Regions from separate parts of the Homo sapiens genome. Here region 1 is linked to region 2. Evidence: fine-mapped expression QTL. A gene starts in region 2. The other region holds a variant in brackets. All regions are shown on one strand. Distances are between the middles of the regions. Region 1 has its middle 23 kb from the start of TMCC3. Region 2 holds the start of TMCC3 (transmembrane and coiled-coil domain family 3).

What was found. PIP is the estimated chance that this variant, and not a neighbour inherited with it, causes the effect. A credible set is the group of variants that fine-mapping cannot tell apart.
Region 1: its variant is the best candidate, but not a certain one, in a credible set for the expression of TMCC3 in whole blood (TOPMed, PIP 0.89).

Annotation. Positions count from the first base shown.
Region 1 is chr12:94,665,170-94,681,771 of GRCh38, forward strand. No RefSeq gene overlaps it. Among named protein-coding and RNA genes, the nearest start is that of TMCC3, 23 kb to the left of the region's middle. RefSeq lists enhancers at 10,801-10,910, 11,501-11,610. The variant T/C (reference allele first, on the strand shown) is at 8,879.
Region 2 is chr12:94,641,785-94,658,386 of GRCh38, forward strand. TMCC3 (transmembrane and coiled-coil domain family 3) reads right to left here and starts at 8,773. Exons shown (of 4, transcript NM_020698.4): 1 at 8,569-8,773. The coding sequence starts at 8,646. It overlaps LOC105369914 (a long non-coding RNA gene), which reads left to right and starts at 4,654. Exons shown (of 2, transcript XR_945225.4): 1 at 4,654-7,819; 2 at 9,121-9,218. RefSeq lists silencers at 8,017-8,146, 8,237-8,706, 8,727-8,896 and an enhancer at 8,225-8,940.

The DNA.
Region 1 (16,602 bases), 23 kb after region 2:
TGCCAAAAATCAAATGTTCCATGTGAAAATGCTAACAGGGAGCCTGTTATCTTAACTCATTTTGCAAAGTAGGGTTTTTCTGTTATGTGTATCAAACCTAATACTGACTGCTACAGAGCCTAACAAAATGCCCCATGCAAAGTATCACAAATGTCGATATCTTCTGTCCCACCCCACCCCCGGAAAATATTCAGGGCAAAATGGTCAACAGAAGTCCAAAATATTTTGCTACTGAAGAGTAAGAGAAACATCTTTCTCCATTTCTTCTGTGTCTTCCTATAGCATCTCTATAGGACTTTGCACAGAGCCAGTAAATTGCAATAGTTATTTATTTTGCCTACGTCTTCTGCACCAGACACTGTCAATACATCAACTGAGTTACTGCCAAACTCTTGCCCCCCCATCTCTATGATGGAAGGTGCTATGATTTTCCCAATATCCGGAGTAGCAACCAGGACATCTGAATAGATCAAGTGATTTGACCAAAGGTACTCAGCTAATAAATGGCAAAATTATTGTCCAAATTCCAGGTCTAAGCTTATTTACTAGGTGCATATCCTTGGATGAGCTCTTTAATCTTTATAAGCCTCAGTTTCCTCAATTGTAGAATGGAATTTGCAATTGTAGAATTGCAATTGTAGAATGGAATTGCAGATGGAATTCTAAAAATTATACCCATTAAACGATAACTATCTCTTGACTAAAAGTCAAGGCTGGCACTGCTGAGAATATGAACAGGGAAGAATCTCAGTGCATCTGCAGAGTACACTGTTGCAGGTTCCCTCTCAAAACATTTAACTTAAATGAGCCTGACTTGTCCTCATTCCCTGTCCAGCCTTTCCCTGCTTCTCCATAACAGTTTAACACACATCCACTATTACTAATATTCCCATGAAGATGATTTCTACATTCTAAGCCTCTTGTTTCCTGTTCTTCCCATGAAGAAAGAAAACGAAGCTTTTGAAATTCAAAATTATATCATCATGACTTTACCCTTTATCTGAAGGCTCCTTGTAAATCTTTTCCATCATTTCTAAGCACTTCTAGATTTTCAGTTTTGCATGTCAAGTTTCACAAAATTAGAAGTCAATTCTCCTATCACGTTGGAAGTGAAGGTTCAATTTCCTGCGAGTATTTAGAAGTCCTCACTGTCCTAGCTGACAGTTTTGAAAGGTATTCTATAGTTCTGTTATTTCTCACTGCTTCTTCCTACATCAGCTGTGGCTGATGCACTCCCAGTTAATATTTCTGACATTCTATTGATTTTCTTCCATTAGAAGGAATATCTTTCACAAAAGGAGAAGAATGCTATACAAGGCACAAGATTTAAAGTATGTAATATAATACCATGGAGTGTAGGATACCCAGCAGGCAAGTACACCCACTAACATGCATGTACACACACATACAAAGGAATTAGTAGAAGTTATCAGGGGCCAGGTACAGTGGCTCACACCTGTAATCCTAGCTCTCTGGGAGGCCAAGGCAGGCGGATCACTTCGGCCAACGCAGGCGGATCACTTCAGCCCAGGAGTTCAAGACCAGCCTGGGCAACATGGCAAAACCCCATCTCTCCAGAAAAATACAAAAAGTTAGCCGGACATGGTGGCTCGCGCCTGTAGTCCCAGCTACTCGGGAGGCTGGGGTGGGAGGATGGCTTGGGCCCTGGAGGTCAAAGCTGCAGTGAGCTGAGATGGCGCCACTACACTCCAGCCTAGGTGACAGAACAAGACCCTGTCTCAAAAAAAAAAAAAAAAAAAAAAAAAGTTATCAGGAAATCAAGAATATAACATGTAGGTTTTTCAGAACATTAGCAGGATTTGGTCATTTGGAGTTTACAACAACAACAAGCTTCCTTTTCAATTGCTAAAAGGAACTGAGGTAACGGAAAAAACAAATACAAGATCCAAGAAGATGCTGACCAATTTATAGAGCTCTATTTTGAATTTCTGCTTCAATGAAAGAGACAGAAAATCCATAAATTTCATTGCTGCTTCTTGACACTCACGATTGCAAAACCATTCTCTGGATAAAGCTCTACTGAGATGGGGCTTTTCCCATTGTCCATTGTTTACCTCTAATCCTTTTACAAAGGGAATCGTACTTTCCACAATCCAAAAATGTCAGAATGTTTTACATATAACCAATTAGAAGACAGATGATTAGAATATGGATTATTCATAAAACCCCAGCCCAGGACCTATTTAAACTACTATGCTTTAAATATTTTCCCTCATTTAGATATCAAGATGAAGTGTACAATAAATGATTGTCTGAATCTGCATACTGAATACAGTAGATGCTGGTCACATGAGCGCACCGAGGACTCGAAATGTACCTATTGTGACTGAGGAACTGAGTTTTAAATCTTACTTAATTTTAATTAATTTACACCTTAAAGACAGTACAAACAAAAGAAGGTAAAATATCTCATAAATATTCTATACTGACTACATGTCAATATGAATCACAGAGCCCATGTTTAATTATCAAAATGTCAAAACACAGAGACTGACAAGTATTCTTCACATCTCATTATATAAAATGAGCCAAACATGAGCTAAACATACAAATACTAGTACTATACATGGCTCTGGGAGGGATCCCAAGGGATCTCTCAGGTTTAAATTAATCCTCCTTCCCTGGTAGCATCTTATGTATAGCTTTAGCATCATACTTACCACAGTCTAATTTATGTGAAGTAAATTGTACGTACGTCTACCACGCCTCCCTTTAGTAGACTGTAATCTTTTTAAAATAGAGGACTTACTTGCTCATTCTAAAAATCCATCAGTCCCCAGCATGGTTGTTATATTGGAAATCCTTCCATAAATGTTTGAGGATTTAAATACAGTGTGTACTAATATTTTTTAAACATTCGTTTTTCTATAAAAGCAAGCCTAAAACTAATATTAAGGTCATACTCATGGAGGAAAAGATGCAGTATCAAACAAATGTCAGTTTTCCCTAAAAGTCAATCAATAAATGAAACACAATCCAGTAAAAAAGGATTTTTCCAAAAACTTGACAAGCTTATTTTAAAATTTGATGGAAGAGGCCAGGCACAGTGGCTCACGCCTATAATCCCAGCACTTTGGGAGGCCAAGGCAGGTGGATCGCTTGAGGCCAGGAGTTGGAGACCAGCCTGGCCAACATGGTGAAACCCTGTCTCTACCAAAAATACAAAAAAGTTAACTGGGTGTGGTGGCACGCGCCTGTAGTCCCAGCTACTTTTCAGTGAGCCGAGATCATGCCACTGCACTCTAGCCTGGGCGACAGAGCAAGACCCTGCCTCATTAAAAAAAAAAAAAAAAAAAAAAAAATCAGCGTAAGAGGGGCCAGGCGTGGTGGCTCATGCCTGTAATCTCAGCCCGTTGGGAGGCCAAGATTATTGGATTGCTTGAGACCAAGAGTTACAGACCATCCTCGGCAACATGGCTAAATCCATCTCTACGAAAAAAAAAAAAAAAAGCTGGGCATGTGGGCATGGTGGCACTGCACGCCTGTAGTCCCAGCTACTTGGGGAGGCTGAGGTGGGAGGATCGCTTGAGCCCAGGAGGTGGAGGTTGCAGTGAGCCAAGATCGGGCCACTGCACTCCAGCCTGGGTGACAGACCGAGACCTTGTCTCAAAAATAATAAGCAAACAAAATGAAAAATAAAATTCAATGGATGAAAAAATACAACTTGGGGGAAAAATATGGGGAGTAGGGGCAGACAGAGTGAGCTCTCCCTACCAGGTAGCCAGACATTTTATTGGCAATAGTTCAGGTGATTAGGAATTGGCACAGAGACCCAGGAAGAGAGAGCTCAGAAACAGGCTCATGCACATATGAAAGCACAATCTAGGATGGAGGTGGCATCAGAAATCAATGTGGAAAGGAAATAATTGGTAGTTCATATTGAAAAGAGTGAAACTGCAGTAGATCCCTGAATACCAAACCAAAATTTAAAATGCAGGTGCAATTGTTTCATCTCAGAACATTCTTGGTTTTTTTGCTGTTGCTGTTTTTGCTTGTTTTGCTTTTTTTGAGACGGAGCCTCACTCTGTTGCCCAGGCTGGAGGGCAGTAGAGCAATCTCTGCTCATTGCAACCTCCACCTCCGGGGTTCAAGCGATTCTCCTGCCTCAGCCTCCTGAGTAGCTGGGATTACAGGTGCCCACCACCATGCCCGGCTAATTTTTGTATTACAGGTGCACACTGCCACCCCCAGCTAATTTTTGTATTTTTTGTAGAGACGGGGGTTTCACCATGTTGCCCAAGCTGGTCTAAAACTCCCGATCTCAACTGATCTGCCCGCCTCAGCCTCCCAAAGTGCTGGGATTACAGGCGTGAGTCACTGTGCCCAGCCCACATTTTCTATTATTGATAATTCATTGGGAATTCTAGATGGACTGTATAATACATAAATTATACATTGATATCCATTGTTCCTACTTGATCAATAAATAGGAATAAATTAAGAACAATAAAAGGAACAAATGATTTTTAAGAAACTATCTTGAAGAGGCCTACACCACAGGGTACAAAAACACATTTTTTTCCTTCTTTAAAGTACTGAATCAAGCAAAAGTCCCTTATGGCTTTATAAAGGTCACACTTTTAGAATGGAGCTGGAGGCCATCAAATATACAGAGGGACTCCATGACTGTGCAAAGTACTTCTAAAGACTTCTTTGAAGCTAACTCTATAAAGCTGAAACCAAAATCCAGCCAAACAATGACTGCTCTGGTGCTGTTAACAGCACCTCTCCACTCATCTCCATCTGGGCTGTTAACCGAGCGCAGCTTGGCTTTATCTTAATTCACCCGGATCGAAGCGGGTTAATTCTCAGCGTAACCCCATGCATCAGACATTCCTAGCATTCAACATCAGCATGAACACAGCTCTCTGAATGCCACATAGTTTCCTTACACTTCCGTATGCCTGAACCTGTGGTCCAAATTTTTCCCTGACTTCAAAGGAGGTCAAAATCCCAAAACTGGGCTTTGATGGGGAAAAAATGTTCCAAAGACGTCATACACCTAGAACATGTTTCACACACGTGCTAGATCATCTCTCCAGAGAGTTTATTTCCTGCTTGAAAGTGGTTTCACCTGTTTTTCTAGGTCTCCTTCTTGGATTCTCCTGTTTGATGCTGCGGCGATCTCATAACAGAAATGTGATATTGCTATAACTATTTGTATTACTTTGCTCAGGCTGCCATAGCAAAATACCACAGACTCGGGGGCTTAAACAACAGAAGTTTATTTTCTCACAGTTCCAGAGGCTAGAAGTCTAAGACCAAGGTGCCAGCAGGGTTGGTTTCTCTGAGGCCTCTCCCTTTGGTTTGCAGACAGCTGCCTTCTTGCTGTGTCCTCACATGGTCATCCCTGGTGTCTCTCAGTGTGTCCAGGTTTCCACTTCTTCGGTTTTTTTTGTTTTGTTTTGTTTTGTTTTGTTTTTTGAGAAGGAGTCTCACTCTGTGACCCAGGCTGGAGTGCAGTGGCACAACCTTGGCTCACTGCAACCTCCGCCTCCCGGGTTCAAGCGATTCTCGTGCCTCAGCCTCCTGAGTAGCTCGGATTACAGGCTCATGCCACCACGCCCGGCTAATTTTTGTATTTTTAGTAGAGATGGGTTTTCACCATGTTGCCCAGGCTGGTCTGGAACTCTTAACCTCAGGTGATCCGCCCAGGTGGATTACAGAGGCGTGAGCCACCATGCCTGGCTGGTTTCCTCCTCTTACAGGGACATCAGATAGATCAGAACCCAGCCTAATGGCGTTGCTCTAACTTCATTACCTCTTTAAGGGTCCTATCTCCAAATGCAGTCACATTCTGAAGTACTAGGGTCTAGGGCTTCAACATACCAATGTTACAGGGGCACAGTTCAGTCCCTGACACCACTCATGCGATGATGAACTTGGCAAATGTATGGAAGCAGCTGTGCCTGGAGATAAGGGGGAATAGCAGCTGGGGAATGAGAGAGTAGGGATCTTGAAACCTACAAAGAAACTCCACATTCCTGGGAAAATAAAGCCCTGATTTCCTTTGTTGAAATCTGCTCATTTTGATTAGGTACTTTCTTAAACCCCTACTTTAATTTTGCATAGAGATAGAGCTACATAAAAATTTCCATCCAAAGAGATAACTAAAGAGGTAATGACCCATAGAATGTCTTTAACAGCTCTTCCTAGTATGCAGTCTTCTTTTCTTAAGAACAGCTACAATTCTCAATATGCCATTTCTCTGCATAAAGTATATGTGCACAGCCTGTGATATATGAATAGAAAGGGAGAGTGTGGGGAGAGGAACAGAGGAGATGAGGGAACAAAGGAAGGCAGTGAATGGAGATTTTTAAAGAAAGAAGTTCAGTGTGAAAAATACACACAAACTCCTGAGAGGTAGGAATGTACTGCAAAGATGCTTCTCTGAATGAGAAGCCAGGGCAGGCCCAACCAAGTGAATTTCTGGTATGAAAAGAGGTACCAGGAAGGAAAAAGAAGTATAAAGTTTTTAATAAGACCAAGTGATTCAGTTTTGAAATGAGATATAATCTAACTTAAAGGACTTGGGAGACAAGTGAGAACGTGGAGTTATCAGTGGAGACAGTACCATAGCAGCTGGGGGCAGAAAGTTCTGCCTTTGTCTGTGGGTTTTGCAGGTCAAATAAACAGTATCCCCAAAGATTCAAACCTGAGGCTTGCAAAGGACTCTCCAGTTCCAGATTCTGGTGTTAAAAGTCTGTATCATGCCTAAATAAATATATTTAAAGAGCTGTGGCCAAAGATGTGGTTTTATAATTACATATTGATTTATATTGGATTTCTTGGTTGGCTGCAGAGTTTGGAATCTTTCCAGCATTACTTTCTTGCCAATTTCTAGGTAGCTTATAGCAATTTCAAAGTACCTCCAATTATACATTTTCAACAGATGGGATTATTAAATGCTTAGTGCAAACAATGATCCATAGATGTGTTACCACCCACCAGTAGACAAAGCCGAGCTTCTCTCTGCTCCACTCTCATTCCAATAAATATTTACATCCTTCCATTTACTCATTTCAAGACTGTAGGATATGGAATTTCATTGCTCTTTTAAGGTGAGTGCAAGAAATTGTTAATGGTTTCTGGATTTTCCAATTAACTTGCTCTCAGAAGAATTTATCTTTAGTATAAATAACAGAATGGTTCATGGTCTGTAGATATTTTCATCTACACATCCAAGTATGGTATCAATTTTTAAGTAGGAAACTTTTTTTTTTTAAGCATTTATACTTTTAAAGCCTAGACTGTAGAACTTTTCAGAACAAGGTGTGTGGTTCAGCCTTCTTTTTCAGATGAGGAAACTTGAGGCACAGATATGTAAAATGGCTTGCTACTTGGTAGCAGAGCTGAAGGAATAGGCAGTAGAAGAGGGAGAAGAGACTCTGCAGTTCGTGTGGGCACCTGCTGGGTGGCCAGGTTCTCATCTTTGTGGCTTCACAAACACACACCTTGCAGCCAGCATCCTTGTCACAAACTCAGGCTAGCAAGGCTGAGACGGAGACAGGTTAGGACAGTGGCCCGCTGTCATTCACAGTAAGTGATTTAAACCCAAGTCTGTCTGATACCCCAGACCAACCCTTTTCCATTTCCCTACACTGTTCCCTAAACAGAACCAAGTTATATTATTGAGTTTAAAACTGATATTTATAATGGCATTAGATAAAGTTAGATTCAATAGCTTCTCCAAACCCTAGGTTTATTTTCTAGTATTCAATCTCTGAATTGTTATTGGTTTCTGTTTTGGCAGCATAACTGACATTTACTTAAGAAAATATGAATTAATACATATTTAGGTGTAAATCAAGTGAAAGCCTAGCTGTTTGACCTTAATTAATCATTAATGGAAAAAATTCCCTCATCCTTTGAGCCTTTCTATTTTGAATGCAATTATTTAAATGAAAATGTAGGGCAGTCCTCTTTACCATGTCTTACCCGAATAGGAAATTCACGGAGTGTATCTCATACGTCCATCCCCAGTGTTCACGGTGAGAGACATGAAAAGGTACAAGAATCAGTCAGCTAGTAAGTGATTCAAACTCAAGACCACCTGACACCCGAAACCAAGCCTTTTTATTATCTAACGTTTCCCAGGTAAAGGAAGAAATACATACAAGGATGTATAGAATGCACCTTTAAGACATTATCAAGCATATTCAGATGTAAAAGCTTCTTAGAACCTTGTGCACTGGTATTCAATTTCTGTGAAGCTATTCGTTAGAAATAGTTTTACTTAGCAGAGAGAAAAAAATTATAGTTATTTTATATAGTTAGGTAATTAATTACTCACCCACAGCTAAACTCGCTGCCAAACACAGGTGGACCACAGGGCTATGAGGCCTAATGCTTCACACCTATTAACCCAAAATGCAGTGGACACAAAGGGCATCCTTAACCCCCATATGGTAATTCTGAACTGCACGAGCAATTAAGTAAGAGTGTGACCTATTACCACTGACATAAAAACAGCTCAAAGGCCATGTACTATTTACTATTCATAGGAGTCCCGTGGCATACATTGGTTTTCAAAAGACAGCAGGTGACATTCATCAGCAGACTTTCTGTGTCCCTCTGCTCACACTTACAGCACAATTTTAGAGTCTCAGGTTAAGGCTGTTTTTCCTTAACAATACTCAATTTTCTTCTGAATCACTGAGAAAATCTAAGTCTACCGTGGGGTCATCCTCAGTAGACTGGAAATGGGGAAGAGAATGTGAGCTTCTTTTGTTTTTATATCCTCCTGTCCATAATTAGGCAATATTTTTAAAAGAGAAAAACAAAAACGTTCCAAGCACAATAACCTTGATGCCGTTCTGTAATCCAGAGTGGCATACTGGCAAACTGGGTTATTATT[T/C]TTTTTTAATTTCAGATAACCTTCTCTCAATTGTCAAGGGTATATTCAGCAAATCAAATCGACTTCCCTCAGCATCATAAATCCCATTTGTATCCTAGTAGAAACACACATTTCCTGAGAAAGGGAGCTGGGTCTTAAAAAAGGAAGTTGAAGTTTTTAAGCTGGAGATAAGGCATTTCAAAAGGGAAGAAACTTTTGGCAGGACTCGAGTGCATCCTGCACTAATGGAAATTGGAAACCCATCCTTCATTTCATGAACATTACTATACAAAATGTAAAACATATTGGTACCACAGCAACCAACTCTGCATAATGTACTTGCAGCTTCAAATGGCAACCCTGGGGGAGATAAAAGTTGATTTTTTTTTTTTGCTATCATGAAATGTTGGAATTTCTTAATTCCACAGATATTAGCAAGTGTATATTTCATGCCAGGAAATGTTCTTGGCTCCAAGGATATAGCAGTGAACACAATTAGGTTGCTGGCTTCATGGAGTTATATTTGGAGGTGGGAAATTTTAAAAATTACTGTATAATATAGCAGATTAGAATATATAGGGATGGTATAATATATATTATGGTATATTAGTATATATATTTATCATTATTACATGTGTCACATATAGAAACATAGTATATAATACCATATTATGCAATATAACAAAATATGTCAGGTAGATATAGATCATATCAGATGCTAGTAAATTTTAGAAAGCAGAGAAAAGGGGATAGATGAGTGTTGCATTTCTGAATAATATGTTTTGGGAAGTTCTCATGGATAGGCTGGGACACCTAACTAGAGAACTGAAGGAAGTGAGGGGGTGATACATGTAGAATATCTAGAAAAAGACCATTCTAGGCAAAAGGACCAGCAAGTGCAAAAGCTCCAAGGAAGGGGAGCACTTGATCCATTTGAGGAACAACAGCAAGAAAACCAGCATGGGTGGAGCAGAGTGAGCCGAGCAGGAGAGCGGGGAGGGTGGAGATGAGGTCAGAGAAGCAGCCTGGGGTTAGAAGAACAGCAGCGCAGATCCTGTGGCATTTTCTGGCAGAGTAAGGACTTTTTATGGGGGGGCCAGGGTGGAAGCCGGGAGGCTGATCAGGAGGCTATTGAAACAGTTCAACGTTTCTCTGCATCTGTCCCAGACCGTTCCCTTCCCATCTTGCTTTCTCTCCCAGACCACTGCTGGCTTTTTTTTTTTTTTTTTTTTTTTTAGATGGAGTCCCACTCTGTTGCCCAGGTTGGAGTGCAGTGGAGCAATCTCGCCTCACTGCAACTTCTGCCTCCCAGGTTCAAGCGACTGATTCTCCTGCCTCAGCCTCCCAAGTAGCTGGGACTACAGGCGCATGCCACGACACCTAATTTTTGTTTTTTTGTTTTTTGTTTTTTTTGAGATGGAGTTTCGCTCTTGTAGCCCAGGCTGGATTGCAATGGCACGATCTCGGCTCACTGCAACCTCCGCCTCCCGGGTTCAAGCGATTCTCCTGCCTCAGCCTCCCGAGTAACTGGGATTACAGGCTTGCGCCACCATGCCCAGCTAATTTTTGTATTTTTAGTAGGGACGGGGTTTCACCATGTTGGCCAGGCTAGCCTCGAACTCCTGACCTCAGGCGATCCACCCGCCTCAGCCTCCCAAAGTGTAATTTTTGTATTTTCAATAGAGACAAGGTTTCACTATGTTGGCCAGACTGGTCTTGAACTCCTGACCTCGGACGATCCGCCCACCTCAGCCTCCCAAAGTGCTGGGATTACAGGCGTGAGCCACCTGCCCGGCCATGGAGCCTCTTGCTCCTATGTCTCTTCTGACCTCCAGCCTTACTCACCCATCCATCCAGTTCATCTACACATGGATGGCTCAGTATGTTCAAGTGTGCCCGCCTTCCTCCATGCCCCTCTGGCTCCTCTAGGATCCCACCTTTCAGCAAATGGCACCACCACTTAGTTGCTTAAGACTTCTCTTGGGAGTGTCCCTCCTTTAACACCTCACATCCAGGGACTCACATCCAGAGTCCTGTTGCCGCAGACGCATTTCATTTCCTTTCATGATAACACAGAGGAGTAGAAGGGGCCAAAGGCATAGGAGGAAAACAAGAAAATACAGTGTCACCGGAACCAGGGGAAGTGTGTTGATAAAAGCAGTGGTTAGCATGTACTTCTCACTGTAGCAGACACTATGCTCACCACTTCCCACAAACTATGTCATTTAGACCTCGCTACAATCTGAGGAGGAAGGTGCTACGCCCATTTTGCAAATAATTTAGAGAAGTAAATTTCCCAAGGTCACAGTGTGTACTAAATCCCCTAAGAGAAATAAATTGAGTCTGAAAAACTCAAGTCCACTGAACTGAGTCATGTGGAGACCACCGGTGACCTTAACAAAAACCTGGCCAGTGTCCAGCCGGAAGAAGAGTGAGAAACAAGAGGGAGATGAGAAAATAAGGACAGGAAGTTAGCCAACTCTCTCCAGGGTTGGCCTGCAAAGCAGACAAGGAGGAAGATAAGGCTATAGTTGAAGGGAGGGCAGAGGGGCTGGGCACGGTGGCTCACGCCTGTAATCCCAACACTTTGGGAGGCTGAGGTGGGTGGATAACTTGAGGCCAGGAGTTCCAGACCAGCCTGGCCCACATGGCGAAAGCTTGTCTCAAAAATAAAAACTAAAAAAGAGAGTGCTGGGGGAGTGTCTAGGGAAGGTTTTATTTTAGGTGACAACAAAGTAATTTAAATTTCTAAAACTCAACCCCTTTGCAGAGTGTGGGTTAGCATGTCTATGTGAGCAATCAGCACAGAGAAGGTATTTGTTTTCTCTGCTTCCTGCTCCAAGGAAATTCAGATTTTGCTTATGAGTTTGGTTTAAAAAATCATTGGCTATGCATAAAATTTGCGTCCCATATCCTAGAAGATGGGAAAAGCTATAGAACAGAAGGTGTATAACTGGGTCAACAAAATAAACAAAAAGAGGATCTACTCTGGTTTTCTTGGGAAGCTGAAAAATCAGTGCTTTAGAAAAAACCAGTCAAGCCAGACTATTCTGTCACAATGTGGTGGAGAAACCCCAACACTGAACCCAAAAGCAGATGACCTAGTGGGCTGCTCTTTCCGGCCAGCCACTGTCTAGCTTTGTCATCTTGTATAAGTCACTCAATTCAGGGTCAGCATCCTCTGTGGATCAAGGAGCTAATATTTATTATGCCACACTTGGTTCTGGGCAGAATCAAACAACTGAATCAGCCAGAAGATTGACAGAGGATGCATGATTTCAAACAACTGAAATCAGCCAGTAAAAACGCTTTATACAAATGCAAGGTATTCCCAATATCTATCATAATTGAAGGTAAGCATTAAAAGATACTTATGGGCTAGGTACAATGGCTCACACCTGTAATCCCAGCACTTTGGGAGGCCGAGGCAGATCGCCTGAGCCCAGGAGTTCGATACCAGCCTGGGCAACATGGTGAAACCCCATCTCTACAAAATATACAAAAACTAGCCAGGCATGGTGGTGTGCACCTGTAGTCCCAGCTGCTCGGGAGACTGGGGTGGGGGGATCACCTGAGCCTGGGAGGTTGAGGCTGCAGTGAGCCGTGATGGCACCCCTACACTCCAGCCTGGGCAACAGGGGAGACTCTGTCTCAAAAAAAGAAAGAAGATATTGTACACAGTCTGGAAGCAAGCTGTTTGGATACATGTACATTCACCAACTGATTCAAGATTTTTAAAAAATTCAGTGATAGCTTAACAATGCCAGATATATAACAACAAACACCTGCATATTTACTTTTCATTACAGCTGGTGCTGTTGAAGCTGATTTCCAGTGAATCAGGTTAAGCCAGGCCTAAACTTGTGGCCATGACTGGTCTGTGAAAATGCTCAAAGTGTGACATACTTTCAGTTTGCTCTGGATCTCACAGCATACCAATTCAGTACACAGGTCCTGCCACAGAGGTGTTTCTGGCCTGTGATTTAATAAGCAAAGAAAAACCAGTACAGCCAGTCTAATTATTAGAGCAGCCAAGCTTTCAGACTCTCTTAAATACTTCCAACATCAGGCCTCCCTCAGGCAGGGCAAGATTACACATGACTCCAGCCCGGTACCAATTCCCTAACTGTCCATTTCCTATGGAGACATGGATATGGCCTTCTCTAATTAGAGGGACAAAGACAGAAGAGAACCATTATTAGGACTTTACTTTTTATCCCGTTTTAGTTCTAAAACATTCAAGTCCTGCCCTTCACTGATCACTATTACAAATATTAAAATGGGGGTAGGAGTGGTGGATTAAGTGCCACAGAGACCGAATGCATCAATTGTTTCACTTATGGAACATTCTGGGCTCTGAGAACCTCGGAGTAGGAGTGAATCAATCGTACATCCAAGCAGATAACAGCTCAAATCACCAGCTCAGCACAATTCTTCTGGGCACCCTCTTCTCTATCTGCAAAAAGAGACTGGCTTTCCTTCCTCCTCTTGCCCTCCCTCCTGCCCCCACCCCACCCCCGCCGCGCCCTAGGCCTGGAGTCTAGGGCTGCCCAATGACAGGAACACCCAAATCAGCACTGTCTTCTGGGCTGCGTTGGCTTCTGTGGTTGTAGCTAGGAATGGCCAGCAGGGCGGGGGTTGGGTGGGGTGGGATGGGGGCCGTGGGGGTGGCTGCACAAGGAATCATACACCTTTGGTAATACACTTACCGTTTACAAAAAGTTGAGAGTCCACATAACCAGGAATGTGTAATTCATGCAGCTTCCTAAAACTGCCAGGGAATTATTCTTGCCTCCAAGTCAGCCCTGGCTAGGATCGTAAGTATTATAAATGCAAAAAGAATAAAAAAAAGACAGTGCAATTCTTATTTAGTGGGTATTCAGCTCTCAAACCTGAGGGATGGACTAGGAGATTAACATGATGCTCACCAGCCTCTGAGACCTTCCACAAACGCCCTCTGACCAGTCTTTCCCACCTACCCTCCTGCACTCCCGCACCCTCTGCCCTGCAGTCATTCTGCCTCACTCACCGCGCCCTGCACGTGCCTTGCCTCTCCCTTTGTGCTTTTGCAGGTTATGGTTCCGCTGCTGCATAGAATAATCCCTCCTCTCTCACAGAAATTCCTCCCATCTGGGCCCAGATCAAATGCTCCTCCTCAAAGAAGACTTCTCTGATTGCTAGGAGCAGTATCTCCTTCTTCTTGCCACAAATAATATTTTGTTTACAGCAATAATAAGAGCTACTTATTGAACACATACTATGGGATGGGAATCCTATGAAGCACTTGATACATTTTATTTCATTTAATCCTACTACTATTCCTAGTTATAGGTGAGAAAGCCATGATTGAGAAAGGTTAAGTACTATCTCTAAAAGGGCAGTGGCGACACTGGACTTGGTCAGGCAGTTGGACACCAGAGCTCCCACACTCTACTACACGTTGCCTTATACTGTAATGATTTGTGCAAGGGTCCCATCTGCTCTGTGAATTTCTGAGGTCATATATCTTCAGATATCCCATTATATGAACTCATGGCTTGGCCTAAGTGGTCACTGGAATTGGAGCAAAAGTGCACTTAGAGACAGGTTGCTATGGCTGATTCTTCCAGGTATGCTATTTTATCTTTAACCCAGCTCTGACCTTTAGGATGGGTCAAGAGCAGCAACTAAAATGGCCTCACAAAGTCAAGGATCCAAGACCCAGGAAGCAGGAGAAATCTGACCCCTGGAATGCTCTGGAAGCACTGAGGGGCCCCACAGGATATGGGCACCATTGTGTCCTAATTTGGATAACAGGTACCTGAGACATACAAGCCTGTCTCTGTGCATATCAGCTAGATCTCTTAGAATGGTGAGTCCCGGAGCCAGGGGCAGGGTAGCTTTCTTTTCCAGTATATAATAAATGCACACTTGTTGCAGTCAATGTTTCTTCAGACTCGGTTTTCAGTCTCCCAGAGAATAATAAATTCTTGTTGAGAGGATAAGACAGCATGGCTCAAAGGTTAAAAGCAAATGGGCTCAATGTTAAACAGAATCAGTCTGAATGAGTCCAACTTTGCCCCAGTATTTGTGATCTAGGACACGATACTTAATGTCTGTACTTCAGTGTCCTCGTCTGATAATAGAGATAATATCACCACCCATTCATTCATAAGGTGACTAGGAGGACAGAGTGAGATAATGCATGTAAAGTGCTCACTATACTCCACTCAAAAACGGTTAGCTCTTATTATTTAACAATTGCTCTTTTCACTAATGCTAATTATTGTTGTTGGTTAGTCAATTTATAGCTAATGAGAGTACATTTTCCATCTGAAAAATTCTTTACTAAAATTCACTGGTTAGTGTTACTCTTTTCTGCTCTACAGAGCTAGCAGTGAATATAGAGATCAACAATTCTGAACATAAAGAATGAGAAGATATGCCAGGCATGGTGGCTCACACCTATAATCCCAGCACTTTGGGAGGCTGAGGTGGGCGGATTGCCTGAGGTCAGGAGTTCAAGACCAGCCTGACCAACATGGTGAAACCCTAAGTCTCTACTAAACCCTTAGTCTCTACTAAAAATACAAAAATCAGCTGCGCATGGTGGCAGGCACCTGTAATCCCAGCTACTTGGGAGGCTGAGACAGGAGAATCACTTGAACCCAGGAGGCAGAGGTTGCAGTGAGCCGAGATGCCGAGATTGTGCCACTGTACTCCAGCCTGGGCAACAAGAGCGAAAATCCATCTCAAAAAAAAAAAAAAGAAAGAAAGAATGAGAAGATATATAGTGATATGGTTTGGCTGTGTCCCCACCCAAATCTCCTCTTAAATTCCTATGTGCTGTGGGAGGGACCTGTGGGAGATAACTGAATCATGGGGGCAGGTCTTTCCCATGCTGTGCTTGTGATAGTAAATCTCACGAGATTTGATGATTATTACAAGGGGGAGTTTTCCTGCACAAGCTCTTTCTTCCTGCTGCCCTCTCTGTAAGATGTGACTTGCTCCTCCCTGTCTTCCGCCATGATTGTGAGGCCTCCCCAGCCATGTGGAACTATAAGTCCAATTAAACCTCTTTGTTTTGTAAATTGCCCAGTCTCGGGTATGTCTTTATCAGCAGCATGAAAACAGACTAATATATATAGCCTGGGCAACATGGTGAGACTCTGTCTCTACAAAATATAAATAGCCAGGTGTGGTGGTGCATGTCTGTGGTCCCAGCTACTTGAGAGGCTGAAGTGGGAGGATCGCTTGAACCCTGGATGTCAAGGCTGCAGTGAGCCATGTCTGCACCACTGCACTCCAACCTGGGTGACAGAGTAAGACCATGTCTCAAAAAAAAAAAAAAAAAGATATAAACATTAGAGGTACCACCTAACAATTAAAGCTGTTCAAAATATGGTGGCCTCTGAGAAAAATGAGCTGCCCCCTTTCCCTACCCAGCAGAAACTGCCTCCTATGGCCATTACATTTGGTTCAATTTAAGACCCTGATATGGTGGGGATTTGTGTCCCTGCCCAAATCTCATGTCATCCCCAGTGTTGGAAGAGGGGCCTGGTGGGAGGTGATAGGATCATGGGGGCAGTTTCTTGTGAATGGTTTAGCACCATCTTCCTGGTGCTGTTCTCATGAGAGAGAGTGAGTTATTACTAGAGCTGGTTGTTTACAAGTGTGGAGCACTGCCCCCTCTCTCAATCCTGCTCCTACCATGTACGATGCCTGCTCCTGCTTTGCCTTTCGCCAGGAATGAATGCTCCCTGAGA
Region 2 (16,602 bases):
GCTTATGCATCTGGCATACTTTTTTCCCCAATATCCCACCCCAACAAGTGGAAGGTCAGGACATGGATGAACTCTTCATTTTGCAAAACTTTATACTGAAAAAATGAAGACACTAAGAGGAACCACAAAAAATATATATATATTTATATATATATTAGCAACAATACAGTGCAAAGTAGTTTGATACATGAATTGTCACCCCTCTTTTCCCCAGTGCCCCCCAAAAACCTGTAAATAAATTCAGAAGAAGAATGGCCTAACATCGTGTCATTCAAATTCACTTTTTTAACCTAGAAAAGTCACAAAAACTTAAATTTGTTCATACCTACTGAAAATAATTTTAAATTCTCATTCCACCCCTATAACTTAGCAATTAATTTGGTATTTAAAAATTATGTAAAGCAATCCTTTTTAAAGACAGAAGATGGTATAATGGTTAGTCCCAATCAGTCTGTATTAATTACATAATTTTACTGGTTACAGTCTGGCTGGTGTCATTTTCTGCTTCTGCAAATGGAATGGTCTGGAGTTAATAATGTCTAAATTCCCTTCCAGTTCTACCATGGTAAAACCTTGAGTCTAACTTTCCAACCCTCTGCCTTCGTACCTTTAATTCAGTCAAGCCAGGGTTCCACAGGGAGTTCTGGTGTGGACACCGGGCTATGTTTTCTAGTTGCTTTAAACTGCCCTTTGTAATGTTTTTAGTTGGCACAGTCTCCTCGAATGCCTTTAAGACCTGAGGAAGATACAGGTTTACAATCAGCCATTTAAAATGTGGCTTCCTCAGGGGACCGGCACTAAATGGGATGCATTTCAGGAAGCAATCCTTGAAAAGATCTGGTCTCTGGAGAGAACTCAAAGTGTTGGAAATCACACCCACGGTCTCTGCTCAATTGCAGCTCCTGCAATGGCCAGACAGCTACACCACTGTTACATACTGTTATTATTCTTCCTCTCCCATCTGAACATTAACCGAGCATTTAGCAGGTGCTGGCACTCAACAGTGCTTTACACGTACTACACCGTTTAATTCTCACAACAGTCCTCCAAGGGAAGTACTGTGACAACCCTTGTAAAAACCTAACTTTGGTACCATGCGGCAGGGTACACTATAGAAAGTCAACCGGGCCGGGCGCAGTGCCTCATGCCTGTAATCCCAGCACTTTGGGAGGCCGAGGCAGGCGGATCACGAGGTCAGGAGATCGAGACCATCCTGGCCAACATAGTGAAACCCCGTCTCTACTAAAATACAAAAAAATCAGCTGGGAGTGGTGGCGTGCACCTGTAGTCCCAGCTACTCGGGAGGCTGAGACAGGGGAATCACTTGAACCTGAGCAGCGGAGGTTGCAGTGAGCCGAGATTGCACCACTGCACTCCAGCCTGGTGAAAGAGCAAGACTCTGTCTAAAAAAAAAAGAAAGTCAACCGAGGCACATAACTCCAAGACTGGCACTCTTAACCACTCCAGTGCACTCCCCCAAAGTGTGATGTTCTGCAGGGGACACAAGAAGGCATGGTTTAATATTACAAGAGCCTTCACAGAAAGATCACCAGGTAGGTGACTGATGACATGGCTCAAAAGAAGGTGTGAACCCACAGGCCAGTCATGAGGATCTACTGAGGAGACACGTTTGCAGGCATGTCTTGAACTCCATGTTCACAAGGAAGCACCACCTTCACCTTGCTATTCAACAGTCCATCCTCAGGAGACCAAACATCAGGCAAAAACACGGTTCTTTAATGATCTTAAATCATGAGCTTATTTGACAGCCTTTAAGACTTCAAACTACTAGCAAAATTCTCATATCCTAGGCATTAAAGTTCATGAACTATCATTCTGTATCATTCATTCACATGTTTACTGGGAATATATGACTACGTGCAAAAGACTGGCAATGTGCATGTCATAAGAATTAGAGCACACAATTAGGGTAAGTGCCCAGCAGATGCTGTACACATCCTTCCCCAGGCACCCAACTAGTTTAGAAAGACTGGGCTGCTCTCCAGTGTTCGCCACGGAGGCAGACAGGGAAGTGGTAAAGAATCAAGCTCTGGAGTTGAGACATACACAGGTTCAAACCCTAGCTCTACCATAGTTTCCTAATAGCCACAAGATCTTAGAGAAACTAATAATCTGTCTGGGCCTCAGCCTCCCCATCTGTAAAATGGAAAAGTGGGATATTGTGGAAGACCAAGGAGATCATGTATTTGAAGTGCTTCATGTTGCCTGGTGTACAGTAAGCACTCAGTACACATTAACTATTATTGTGACTGCATTCTTCCTTTCACCTATGTTCTTTTTACCTCCTTACAGAGGAATAATCCACAAATATACTATGGTTCCTTTCAGGCAGCACCCCTCCCAAGTCGACGGAAGCAGTTGGCCTATGCACAAATCATATATCCTGATGTTCTCTTTCGAAGGAATGAAAAGTCCTCATTCTGATTCACAGTACAGTGATTCATGGTTCTCTTCCTCTTCTCTTGTCACCCTCCTCCCCTCCACTGAAAACATGAAAACACAATTAAGAAACCACAGGGCTGAAAGCTGCAGACTCTTCTAAGTCAAGCTGCGGGCATTTTCCAAGTAGGACTAGGTTGATTTCTGACCTTAGCAGCAGTCCTGGAGATGCCGGCAGAGGGTCTGAAGCAAAATACACCCTGAGATCCAACTTGGTAGCAGCTGTCTTGGTGATCTCTACAGCGGATGTGACAGGCGGGTGAGCTGGTGGTGGCCGGCAGTTCCTTCTCCTCTAAAGGAAAAGCCTGCAACAAAGTACAGCTCGAAAAACACACACCGCATCACTTTGCTCATCCTAAATGTAAGAAAAACCTGGCTTGAGACACTCACCATTATTCATTCTCTTTAAGAGGCTCTTTAGAACAAAACAAATCACCGGTGAAAACGATATCTGTGTACTACTCAACTTACCACTTCACCGGGTCAGTGTCCTCCAGGACAGAGGTCAGTTTCCACTCCCCCTATTTCCTGCCCAGGGAGTAAGCATGTGATCATCAACTTACTACATCACTGCCCAACCAGTTCCACTGTGAGAAGGGCTACAGCATCCTCTTCTTCACTGCCTTTGGTCATTACTCATCATGTAATTGTAGATGGATTTCCAAACCACAGAACACTTGAAGATATACTACAGGTGGCACTCACGCTTGACACAAGTTTTACTTCAGATGTTAGAGATTTCTGCATGTATTATCATCATGTTCTCCTGTACAAGACAGGGGTATTGTCCGGAACCACAAGAATAAATGAGATACACCCACCAGATATTAAGTTTCCACAGAGACCAGACTGTTTCATTTACCATTGTATTCCTGATGCCTAGATCAGCAGCCAGCACACAGAAGGTGCTCAGTAAGTATTTTTTGAATAAACGAAGCATCTTGCTCTCAAAGTGCCAATGTCTATAGTTTATAAATACATGTAAGCATTAAACATATAAACAGTCAATGTCATGAGAAACATGACGCAAGGAGGCACAAAATGCTAGCAATGCTAGAAAAGTCTATACTTTTCACAAAATTAGCAGCCTTTCCGTTTCTAAGCTCACAAATCCCTCTTTCATATAGTACAGGTCCCCTATTCAAAATGCTTGGAACTAGAAGTGTTTCAGATTTCAGATTTTGGAATTTGTTTTGTTTAGTTTTGTTTCGGAGATGGAGTCTCCCTCTGTTGCCCAGGCTGGAGTGCAATGGCACAATCCTGGCTCACTGCAACCTCTGCCTCCCAGGTTCAAGCGATTCTCCTGCCTCAGCCTCCCTAGTAGCTGGGATTACAGGCACCTGCCACCATGCCGAGCTAATTTTTTTGTATTTTTAGTAGAGACCGGATTTTACCATGTTGGCCAAGCTGGTCTCAAACTCCTGAACTCAAGTGATCTACCCACCTGGCTTCCCAAAGTGTTAGAATTACAGGCATGAGCCACCATGCCCGGCCTAGGAATCTTTGTATTATACTTACTGGTTGAGCATTCCAAATAGAAATATCTGAAATCAGAAATGCTCCTGTAAGCATTTCCTTTGAGCGTCATGTTGACGCTCAAAAAGTTTTGGATTTTGGCTTTTGGATTGAGATGCTCGGCCTATAGTAAAAGTGGTTAACATCTATTGATTTCTTATTGTGCACCCGGCATGGAGTTAAACATTTTATAGACATTACTGAATTTATTCCTCAAAACACCCCTATTATGTAGAAGTAGGAACTAAGGCTTAGAGTGATTACAGGATCCAAGATTACACTGGTAGCAAACAGCACTGGTACAAGATCTGTATTCTGGGGACTATCCTAATGCAAATGGTTCTGTAGGGAAAATAATATGGTCCTTGCATGCAGGATGGAACAGAAGTTGGTGAAGGTCATAAGTGACTAAGGTGGGGGATGATTGGGAGATATGGAAGAAACCAATTCCAGAGAAATGTCAGAGAAAGGTGCGGTGGTATTGCTAATAGGTTAGAGAGATGGGGGAGGGCAGGCACTCAAGATGACTAGCAGTTCTGATTAGTAGTGGCACCAACAAAATAGAAAAAAATTATTAACCTGACATATAGACAAATACAGCTTTTTCACCCAGTGAGAGAACATAAATTTAAAAAAATTTTTTTAAATAGCTAATATTTGAAAGCACACACCTTTTTTTTTTTTTTTTTTTTTTTTGAGAGGAAGTCTCACTCTTGTCCCCCAGGCTGGAGTGCAATGGCACGATCTCAGCTCTCTGCAATCTCCGCCTCCCGGGTTCAAGAGATTCTCCTGCCTCAGCCTTCCGAGTAGCTGGGATTACAGGCACCTGCCACCATGCCTGGTTAATTTTTGTATTTTTAGTAGAGACAGGGTTTCAACATGTTGGCCAGGTTGGTCTTGAACTCCTGACCTCAGGTGATCCACCTGCCTCGGCCTCCCAAAGTCCTGGGATTACAGGCGTGAGCCACCGTGCCTGGCTTTTTTTTTTTTTTTTAAAAAACAAATACTTTCTTATTTAAGACACACAATCACTCCCAGAAGAGTGGAGTATTACCTCTTTTACAGATGGGAAACTGGAGGCTCAGAAAGGCTATTTAGGACCTTGCCCCAGTGGTCACCCAGTTAAGAAGCTCGAAGAGCCAGAATACAACCCACGTAGGTCCAGAGCCCCAGCTGTCCACCACTATACTCAAGTGGCTGGAGAGGGCATTTTAGAACACTTAAAATGAAAACCAACTAAAAGAAAACCTAATTCACACATCATTAATAAAAGCCAGTTACTGTATAGAAAGCAGACGGCCTGTATTCTTAAAAAGATGATAGGCTTTAACTATCTAGGGCATGAAAAAAAAGTAGGAGTCTAATTATGGATGCTCTTTCTTCTAAAGTAGAGAGATATGTGCATCAAGTTAACAAGCACCATTTCTGAGTTTTACAAAGATGAAGTTTTAAAATGTGAATGATCCTGACTTGTCAGCTTAGCAACAATCACAGAATTCATTACTTACATTTTCACTAAGGGGGGAGGGGTTATCTAGGTCAGTCCACCTAGATGTAAAAATAGATTTCTGCAATGTTGAAAGAGTACACTGCCTCATTATTATTCCAGTCTCAAAGGCTGAAATAAGCCCAGCAAGACAGACCATGTAGTTTCCCTGTTATCTCAACAGGTATTGATTTTGAATTTAAAAAATGACCATTCAGTAACTAAGAACTTCATCTCATGGAGTCTTTGCCCACTTCTAGGCAGAAACTCCATATCCCTGAAAGATTAGTCGACTCTTCCCATGACCCCCTAGTTCTCATTGGCATTTTTAGGGGAGCTAATTCACCAAATGAGTTCATAAAAGGGTTCTTTTTAAATCCTATACTAGTTTCCTCCCAAGGAGATGGTGACATCAAGAAATTAGCACTCGATGTCTTCCTCTCGCATCACATACGTTCTGGGTGTCAGGAAAACATATCTTTACAGCTGCATCCAAGTGAGTTCCACAATACAGGAGCTACGATCATTTAAATGGATGAATACTTTCTGCACAGTAAAATTGTTGCTTTCCCTTCATTACAACAGACTTATTGTAGCCTCAGGACAGACTTGAAATTACATCAACCCTGCTTGAGAAAAGTTATTATTATGAGTTTACAAAAATTTCACTAGTTCTACCTATTCCTCGCTGTCTCAACAATAAAAAACCTAAAAGCAGATAGCTGAGAAGTTTCAACTGGGACCTCAAGAAGTCCAGCATCACTGTAGTAGAATTTGTGATTACGGTCTGCTGAAGTTCTAGCCCTTCTCTGATTTCCTCTCTTCACTAGATCTGACTGGCCCAATGTGCTAATTTACGATAATCCGCACATATAATGTCTAACTCAGTTTTAATACACAGCTTATTTAAAAATCGGGTATCTCCATGCTAACAATACAAGGCAGCAGGTACAATAACATTGTCAGTAGAATTGTTTTATTTATTTATTTATTTATTTATTTATTTATTTAAAGACAGAGTCTCGCTCTGTGCCCAGGCTGACGCGATCTCGGTTCACTGCAACCTCCGCCTCCCGGGTTCAAGTGATTCTCCGCCTCACCCTCCCGAGTAGCTGGGATTACAGGCGCCCACCACCACGCCCGGCTAATTTTTGTATTTTTAGTAGAGACAGGGTTTCACCATCTCGGCCAGGCTGGTCTTGAACTCCTGACCTGGTGATCCACCTATCTCGGCCTCTCAAAGTGGTGGGATTACAGGCATGAGCCACCGCCCCCGGCCCGTCAGCAGAATTTTAAAGAAAATCAAGAAATCACATAAGGTTTTGACCTTTTAATAGAAAAGACTGGCGTAGACAGGCAACAGTGGCAGATGCGGCAGAAACACTCTGCAGTTACCTTACACAATTGCTTTACCACATTCCACCTAAGCAGTTGAGGCACAAACTTTATCACCACCATTTTACAGGTTATGAAGAGTGAGTTTTGTAAAGTTGCATGAGTTTTGCCAAACCACTTAAATGAGTTGACAATGAGCCATCCATCCCGCTAAGATTACTAATCTTGTTTACACAAAGAAGATCACAGTTGTGACAAGAAAAAACAAGCTTTCACATTTCAAGTCTGCAATATTAACTTTACAGAATCCTCTCAATTACAAATGCATTCGAAGATGATCTCCTTTTCTTCATAGTTCTGTTAACTAGCATTACAGCTATCCAAGAAGAAATGTCTACCTGTGGGTAAGCACATTTCTTCAATGTTTATTCCAAATGGAGTTTCTGGTTATTTTCACAGCAAACTGTTACGAAACTTATACACAAAGTGCAAAAACAAGAGAATTGTAAGATTGAGATGAGTGCATGAGGTATTATTCCACCAAATATATTCAATCTGTAAAAACTCAAATCATCCTTCCAAAATGATTAACAGATGCTAAAGGAAAAAGGGAAAGCGGGCAAATAAACCAGAGACTCATTGCTTCACTTCTGGGGCAATCGATTACTACTTCAAATTATGAGTGAAGACCAAAATCCTGCACAAAGGGCCGCGACACAACCCCGTCACTATTGCTACTATTTCCATCCAGTTGGTCTCTCGATCTTGGAAGTGGCAGGCCAGAATCTGAGCCCGGCTCTCCCTCCGTGAACTTTACACAGAGGCTGACACCCAAATCCCCAGTTCTCGGACAAGCGAGTAAGTAGTTGGCGGAGCAAAGAACAACTCCAGGTGCCTCCTGCCAGAACAGATGCCAGCGTGGAGGAGGTGCTTTGTTAAATGGCACTTCAATCAGCCCTGGGGAGAACGGGTTACAGAGCCTCACATCCAGCCTCGACGATTCAACAGCCCGGGAGGGCAAAGGTATTCACCGGGGAGGGCGAAGGCTTCCTCTCCCAGGACAGACCCGCGCTTGGGCTGCGGCCTCCGTCTTTATTTTGAAGCCCTACAGGGCTCGTCTCTGCAGCAGGCTCAGAATGAGCTATTTTCGCCCACAGCCAAAATCAGCAACAGCAAATTACACTGCAAACAATGGCGAGGGCGCCTGCTCGGCTCGGCTCGAAACTCCGGAGAGGCAGCGCAAAGATTCTGACTTTTCACTTGGGCAGAGCCCGTCCGCCGCCTCCCCGCGCTCCGGCTGCGCACCGCGCTCGGGTTCCGGCCACACGCCCCGAGGACAGGGAGACAGGGCGGCCGCCGGGACGTTCGGCGGGGAGGGCACCGTCACACCCAGGGCGAGACCCCGGAGACCTGGAGACGCGGGGCCGCGGGTGGCCGGGTGGCGGGATTCCCTCGCGGAGCGGCGGGCGCTCCCTGGCGGGGAGGACAGCAGAGCGCGGGCCGTCGGGGAACCGGGCGTCCCGCATAGCGCGCGGGGACCTGGGCGCCGTGAGGGGCAGGCGGACCTGGGATCCCAGAACCGCAGCCTGGGCTCCGACGCCCCCGACGCCCACCCTTTTAGCTCGGAGGATCGGGGAGGCACGGACCTCCGGCGGCAGCGGAGGGCGGCGGCGAAACGCCGGGGGCGCGTGGGTTAGCACTGAGCCGCCGCCCCAGCCCGCCTCGCCCCCGGGCCCGCGCGCACCCGCCGCCCCCCAGCCCGCTGCGCTCACCCGGCTCTTGCAGCGGTGGTGCCGGCCGGGGTACGAGTAGGTCCGGTCCACGGTGAGCGCCGTGTCGCTGCCCGGCATCTCCGCGCTCCGGCCGCGAACTTTCCCGTCTTCTGGGGCTGCCGCGCCGCGAGCCACCGGCTGTGCTCGGGATCACCCTGGGAGCCGCGGGCGAGGGGGCGGCGCGGCTGCTGCAGCTGTTGCCTCTGGTGCCAACACCCGCGCGGCCGCCCTGCGCCGCCGCCGCCGCGGGGTGGGGGAGGCGGGGCAGGAGGCGAGAGTCTCCTCCCCCTTCCCTTCTCCCCGCCTCTCCCGCGCCCCGCAGCCGCCTGGACCCCCCACCCACCCCCGACCCGGGAGGCAATGTCTTCGCCTCCCTCCCTGGCTGAAAGTTGATTCCATCCCCTCCCACACAGCCCTCTTTCTCCCCAAAAGATAAGCGACATCCACACTACACTATCTGTTGACTTATTTTATATATAAAAGGTGACTGTTACTGCAAGAAGTTGACACTTGCCTTAAATGCCTCTTTTTATGTTATTCTCCATTCAACAGGCACTTACTGGGCAGCTGCCATGTACCAGACGCTGGACTAGAGACCAGAGATTTAAAGTAAAAAAATGAAATAAAATAAAAACTCCCCCCGACCATGATTGCCCTGAGCATAGAGCATACTTCCACTTAAACTAAGATCCTACTGTGTTGTGTATTTTAATTTTGCATATCTGGCTCACCTTTATGTTTCTTTCTTTTTTTTTTTTTTTTGAGACTGAGTCTCGCTCTGTCACCCAGGCTGGAGTGCAGTGGCGCAATCTCGGCTCACTGCAAGCTCCGCCTCCCGGGTTCACGCCATTCTCCTGCCTCAGCCTCCCAAGTAGCTGGGACTACAGGCGCCTGCCACCACACCCAGCTAAATTTTTTTGTATTTTTAGTAGAGACGGGATTTCACCATGTTAGCCAGGATGGTCTCGATCTCCCGACCTCGTGATCCACCTGCCCTAGCCTCCCAAAGTGCTGGGATTACAGGCGTGAGCCACTGTGCCCAGCTTACCTTTATGTTTTAAGCTACTTGGAAGTCAGGATATCTTTTCATTTTAGTATTCCCCATTCCCAGTCATCAGTCCCTGCCCACAAGGAATTTGGAGTTTAGAAGAGGAAGGACCATTGGTGAACAATTTAAATATCAGTAACCCCAAACAAAATTCAAAACACCTGTTCTGGCTCTGTAGGGTGTACAGTGGGAGACTGGGCTGAAATATTTAAAGTGCAGCTGTTCCAGAGAGGACCTGGAGCCCAGTGTGACCAGTCCAGGGGGAGGGAAGGATTTCCCTCATAGGGTTCAAAGGGGACGGTAGAGCAGGCTGAAGAAAACTTTGGAGCCCCTAAAATCAGAGGTACATTTGGGAAAACCTCAAGTCATCAGTTTTGGGGAGTGTCCTCAGGAACAGGAAGACATGATGGAAAAGAAGGCAGAGACCATGCAGAATCTTCGTTCAAGGGTAAGAAGTTCAGCCTTATTCTGTGGGAACTGGGTAGCTGTTGGAAATTCTTGAACAGGGAAATGATAGCATGGGAATGGAAGTTTAAGGAGAAGGTATATCTGACATCAGGGTGAAGCAGCGATTGAAGATGGGCAAAACACACTGGCTTCTTAGAAGGCCACTGTAAAGACAGAATAGCCTAATTATCCTTCAGAAGGAGACTAAGTAAATAAATGATGGTACATCATCCAATAGAATATTAGGTAACTGGAATAGAAATGAGGCAGCCCTCTATGAATAGCTTTGGAAGCAAATCTAACATACATGGTTCAGTGGAAAAAAAGCAATGTGCAGGATAATATATATGGCATTCCACCATTTATGTAAAAACAATATATGTTATGTGCTTCTACATGCACGACATATATCTGGGAGGATAAATAAGAAACTAGGGAAACAGACAAGAAATTGATGCCAAGAGAGGGGAACCAGGTAGCTAGAAGGCAGAGATGGAGAGAGATCTAATTTTCACTGTGTATACTTTTGAAACTTGAATGTTTATACTGTGGGCATATATTAACTATTCAGAAAGTAAAATTTTTTAAAAAATGTTTTTTAGAGATAGGGTATCTGTTGCCCAGGCTGGGGTGCAGTGGCACAATCATAGCTCACTGCAGCCTCAAATTCTTGGTCTCAAGGGATCCTCCCACTTCAGTTTCCCAAGTAGCTAGAACTACAGGTGTGTGCCACCATTTCTGGCTAATTTTAAAAATATATTTTTTTGTAGAGAAAGGGTTAAAACTAACTTAAGAAGAAATTGAAAGTCCCATGTAGTCCTTAAGCCATTCAAAAAATTAAATCAACACTTTTAAAAATACCCATCTACCACTACCCCAACACACAACTATACTAGACCCAGAGAGTTTTTCAGGTAAGTTCTTTGAAAGAAGAGAAATACCAAACGCTGGGGTGTGTGTGTGTGTGTGTGTGTGTGTGTGTGTGTGTTGGAGGGAGATTTTAGCTAGGGTGGCTAGAGAAGTCCTCCATGATAAGGTGACCTTGAGCAGAGACTTGGGAAATGAGGAAGCCAGAAGTATAGACATTGAAAATTTCCAGCAGACAAACAGAAAGTCAAGGGCCCTGAACATTTCGGGAGTGTTCAAGGAAGAGCAAGGAGGCCAGTGTTCACTGGAAAGAGATGAGGTCAGAGACATTTCAGAGGGCCAGATCATATATGGACTTTCATTCTATTTTAAGAACTTTAATTTTAGGCAGGGCGTGGTGGCTCACGCCTGTAATCCCAGCACTTCAGGAGGCTGAGGTGGGCCGATCACCTGAGGTCAGCAGTTCAAGATCAGCCTGACCAACATGGAGAAAATCTGTTTCTACCAAAAATACAAAATTAGCCGGACATGGTGGCGCATGCCTGTAATCCCAGCTACTCAGGAGTCTGAGACAGGAGAATCGCTTGAACTCAGGAGGCAGAGGTTGTAGTGAGCCAAGATCATGCCATTGCACTCCAGCCTGGGCAACAAAAGCAAAACTCTGACTCAAAGAAAAAAAAAAAAGAAAAGAAAGAACTTTAATTTTGGGGAATATGGGAAGATTTGGAAATTTTTGAGCAAAGGAGTGGCATGATCTACCTTTTCACTTGGATGAAAATAAAATTGATCTCTACCTCACAGCATAAACAAAAACCAATACCAGATAAAGGAAAAATAAAGAAAAAAAATTAGCTGGACATGGTGGCTTGCACCTGTAATCCCAGCTGTTCAGGAGGCTGAAGCAAGAGGTTCACTTGAGGCCAGGAATTCAGCCTGGGCAACAGAGCAAGACCTGTCTCTAAAAAAATTAAAAATTAAAAAAAAAAAACAGATTAAAGACTTAAAGTGGAAAAAACACAACTTAAAATTGTCAGAAGAAAATGAAAGAATATCATTATTATCATCTCAAGTAAAAAAAAAAACAAGACACAAAAAGCATAAACCACAAAGGTTTGACATTAAAAAAATTAAACTTCTGCTTATGAAAATAAACAATAAAGTAAAAAAATAAGCCACAGACCAAACTCCAGCTAAAAAAAAAAATCAATATGGACAAATTTCACAAACAATACTGAGAAACAAAAAAAGCAAGCCACAAAAAATTACTTGCAGTAAGATTCATGTAGGCTGTGTGGTAGCTCATGTCTATAATCCCAGCACTTTAGGAGGCTGAGGTGGGAGGATCACTTGAGCCCAGGAGTTCGAGACCAGCCTGGGCAATATAGTGAGACCTTGTCTCCACAAAAAAAAAAAAAAAAAGATTCATGTAAAGTTTTTGTTTGGTTGGTTTTTTTGTTTGTTTGTTTTTGGTTTTGAGACAGAGTCTCACTCTGTCGCCCAGGCTGGAGTGCAGTGGCACGATCACAGCTCACTACAACCTCTGGCTCCCAAGTTAAAGTGATTCTCATGCCTCGGCCTCCTGAGTATCTGGATTGCAGGTGTGCACCACCATGCCCGGCTAATTTTTGTGTTTTTAGTAGACATGGGGTTTCACCATGTTGGCCAGGCTGGTCTTGAACTCCTTGCCTCAAGTTCAAGTGATCCACCCGCCTCACCCTCCCAAAGTGCTGGATTGCAGGCGTGAGCCACCACGCCCAGCCTTCCTGTAAAGTTTAAGAAAAGCAAGAGGATAATAAACACAAATTTCAGGACAGTATCTCTGGTGGGGAGATGAAGAAGGCTTCAATAGAAAAGGGGTACACAATTATAAATATATAATGCTCTTTAACAAATGACTGTTGGTACACTGGATGTACATTCATTCATACATACACACAATAGTGAAGAATAATTTAAAATTTTAAAGGTAACAGAGTCTCAAAGGAACAGATATGGTGATATCCTTAATTCTGGAATTCAAATCACCAGTTAGGGGTACCTTCTCAAATAAATAAACATAATAGCACTTTACGTGTGAATAAACTCAGAGAGGCCCTGACAAACCAGGGTTGGGCTTTGCTTGGGGGTACCAACAGGCATCTACTTTCCATTTCTATTACTGTCTTGATGTTTCTTAGAATTCCATCCTGGAATGCTGACCCTCAATGAGAAGGATAAATTAAAACTTTATTAGGCTCATTTAAATGTCAATTAACAAAGGATGTTCTTTTTTAGATCATTTAAATTTATTTCATAAGCTAGTTGCCCAAAAGCTGCTCTGCTGGGCACTCATACAAAATTATTTTTTAAAAATATACAAATTAAATAGCAGAAGAGCAAGCTCCCCAGAACAGAAAGAAAACAAGCAGTGCTGATCACCATCTGGGTCTCCTTTTGGGAGGCAGAACCCAAGGGGAAAATAGACCACATCCCCTCCTTTGGACGCAATGCCAATGCCTAGGGTTTTGTCAGCCCTGGAGAGAGAGAGAGAGGGAGAGCGCAGGTGCAAATTCCTCCTGTCAATGTAAGAATTCTGTGCTTTTGATACCTCCAAGAGCCTCTCTCTGCAGAAAGTATGGAAAATATCGCACTGTTAAAATAACAAATGCAGTCAGAACAATAAGAAATACAAAGGTTCATACCTAAGGTGTGAAATAAGAATTTACTTGCAAACTATAAGGAAGGAGCACAACAAGACAGCAGATGCTAAAAGCACCAAAGAAGAGACCAGGTCATTTGAGCTGTAATAGTTTAAAGTTTGGAGTGAAAGGCCTATGGAAAGAGGTAGGACTACACTTGACTTTTGTAGTGCGTGTTTGTTGTTTCAGCCTGCCCAGGATCCCACCCCTTATTCTGAAGACAGTACCTAGGTTTTCTATTGGGACCTACCCTACTCCTACTTTTAATCCAAATGGCTTAGATAAGGTGGACCATTCCCATCCTTGGATCTAGAGAGTGGCATGTCATCCAGCCTTGGCCAGTCAGAGTCACTGTGGCTTGTGCAGGGATGGGCACATGAGCTAATCAGAGCAGATGAGAGTCATCCCCAGACTTTTGTCAGAACTGCTGGGAAAGCCTATGCCCTTCCAGTGGGCATTGCTAAGCTGGTACAATGCAAGCCTGATGCTGTAGTGGACATCCTTCCACCATATAAAGACAGCCTCCCTGGGAAAGCAGAGCCATGAAACGGAGAAAGACTTCTTACTAAATCCTTAGAGCACTAGATCCAGCATTTTCCATCTGCTATCGCTGCATGACAAACCACCTTAAAATGCTTTGGCTTGGCCAGGTGCAGTGGCTCACGCCTGTAATCCCAGCACTTTGTGAGGCAGAGGTGAGTGGATCACCTGAGGTCAGGAGTTCGAGACCAGCCTGACCAACATGGTGAAACCCCATCTCTACTAAAAATACAAAAATTAGCTGGGAGTGGTAATGGGCACCTGTAATCCCAGCTACTCAGGAGGCTGAGGCAGGAGAATTGCTTGAACCCGGGAGGCGGAGGTTGCAGTGAGCCAAGATCACGCCACTGTACTCTAGCCTGGATGACAGAGCGAGACTCCATCTCAAAAAAAAAAAAAAAAAAGGTGTTGGCTTACAACAATAACTACCTCTCATTAGCTCATGATTCTGCAATCTGGGCAGGCCTCCAAGGGAGGTGAGGTGGCTTTTCTCTGTTCCATGTGGCACTGGGGGGGGGGGGGTAGGGTGTCCAAGATGGCTTCATTCATATGAGTGACATTATTATATATATATATACATTGGTTTTCACCCATGGTTCCTGGCTTATAATTACCAATGCCCCTGTAATAGTCTCTTGTCATGATTTTGGGGCACTTTAGATCCCAGAAGCCAGCCTCAGAAGCCTTATCCTACCCTTGTTCCAGCTGCTCTTTTCTCTCCTGAAGGAAGGAATCTTCCCCCGCCTTTCTGTCATGCAGCTGGCCATGAAGAAATTCTCTGACCTACCTTGTCTGACTGTAGGACATAAGGTTCATTTTAGAAGGGGTCCTGCTCCATACCCTGGAGGAAAGAATGCTGCACAGAGAAGCCAAGAAGAATCTGAACAGACAGGCCTTGCTGGGTCTCGCCACTCAGTCTCTTAGTACTAGATCATATACCCTTTTGTCCAGTCACATTTCTACATGGTTGTCAATCATGCCCACCCAGTGACGTCTCCATAAAAGGCCGAAGAGTACAGGGTTCAGGGGGCTTCTGGATAGCTGGACATCTATGGAGGGTGGTGTACTCAGGGAAGACACAGAAGCCCTGCGCTCCTTCCCCTACCTCGTCCCATGCATCTCTTCATCTGTATCCTTTCTGATATCCTTTATACTAAACCGGTAAATGTAAAATATAAGGTTCCCTGAGTTCTGTGTGCTGCTCTAGCAAATTAATCAAACCCAAAGAGGGGGTCATGGGAACCCCAACATGAAGCCGGTTGGCCCGAAGTTCTGAAGGCCTGGGCTTGTGACTGGCATTTGAAGGGCAGTCTTGGGGACTCTGCCTTCAAACTGTGGGGTCTGACGCTATCTCCAGGTAGAGGTGGAGGACACCCAGCTGGTGTCCAGAACTGATTGCTTGCTTGGTGTGTGGGGAAACCCCTCTCCCATATTTGGTCACAGAAGTCTTCTGTGTTTATTGTTTTTGTAGTGTGAGAACAGAGGAAAAACATAGTTTGAGTTGATTTTTCTACAAACAACGTGTCAGCACCTATAAGACTTAGGGTGGCTGGAATGGTGGGGGCTGGCCGGGCCTCTGTCTTTATTTTTATATGTTTATAGTTTTTTAAAAAACTTTTTATCTTACTCTGTCACCTGGGCTGGAGTGTGATGGCATGACCATAGCTCACGGCAGCCTCAAACACCCAGATTCAAGCTATCCTGCCACCTCATTCTCCTGAGTAGCTGGGACTACAGGTGCATCAGCACGCCTGTCTATTTTTTGTAGCGACAGGGTCTTGCTGTGTGCCTAGGCTGATCTTAACTCCTGGCCTCTCCCACCTCAGCCTCCCAAAGCTGGGATTATAGGCATGAGCCACTGTAGCCGGCCTGTTTATACTTTTTTAAATACTTTTTTTTATAGTCTCTCATCTCTCCATCAGGGTAGTTGGATTTTTTTACATGGTGGCTGCCTTCTAACACAGCAAAAACAAAAGCTGCCAAATCTCCTAAGGCCTAGCCTAGAACTGGCAGATTATCACTTCCATCACATTCTACTGGTCAAGGCAAGTCAAAAGTCCAGCTCAGACTCCAGGGGAGGAGAAACGGGGTCTACCTGTTGAGGGAAGGAGTGATGTGCACATAGATGGGAGAAATTGCTGACTGCCATTTTGGCAGCCAATCCACCACACCAGCCTTGCCTAGACCACCTTTTCAGTGATATGAAGCAATGGATTCCTCTTTTTGCTCAAGCCCGTTAGAGATGGGGTTTCTGACTCCTGCAACCCAAAGAATCCTGTCTGATGCAACATTCAATGCAGGGTATGGGCAGAAAGAAGACAAGGAAAAGGGCAGCATTTCAAGAGAAGGCAAGAACTTTGAACAGCACAAATAAAGGGAGAATCAACAGAGGATTCTAGTGGGGGCACCAAGGACTCTAGAGTTTTCTCAGGCCACTAGCTTGAGTCTTCTGTG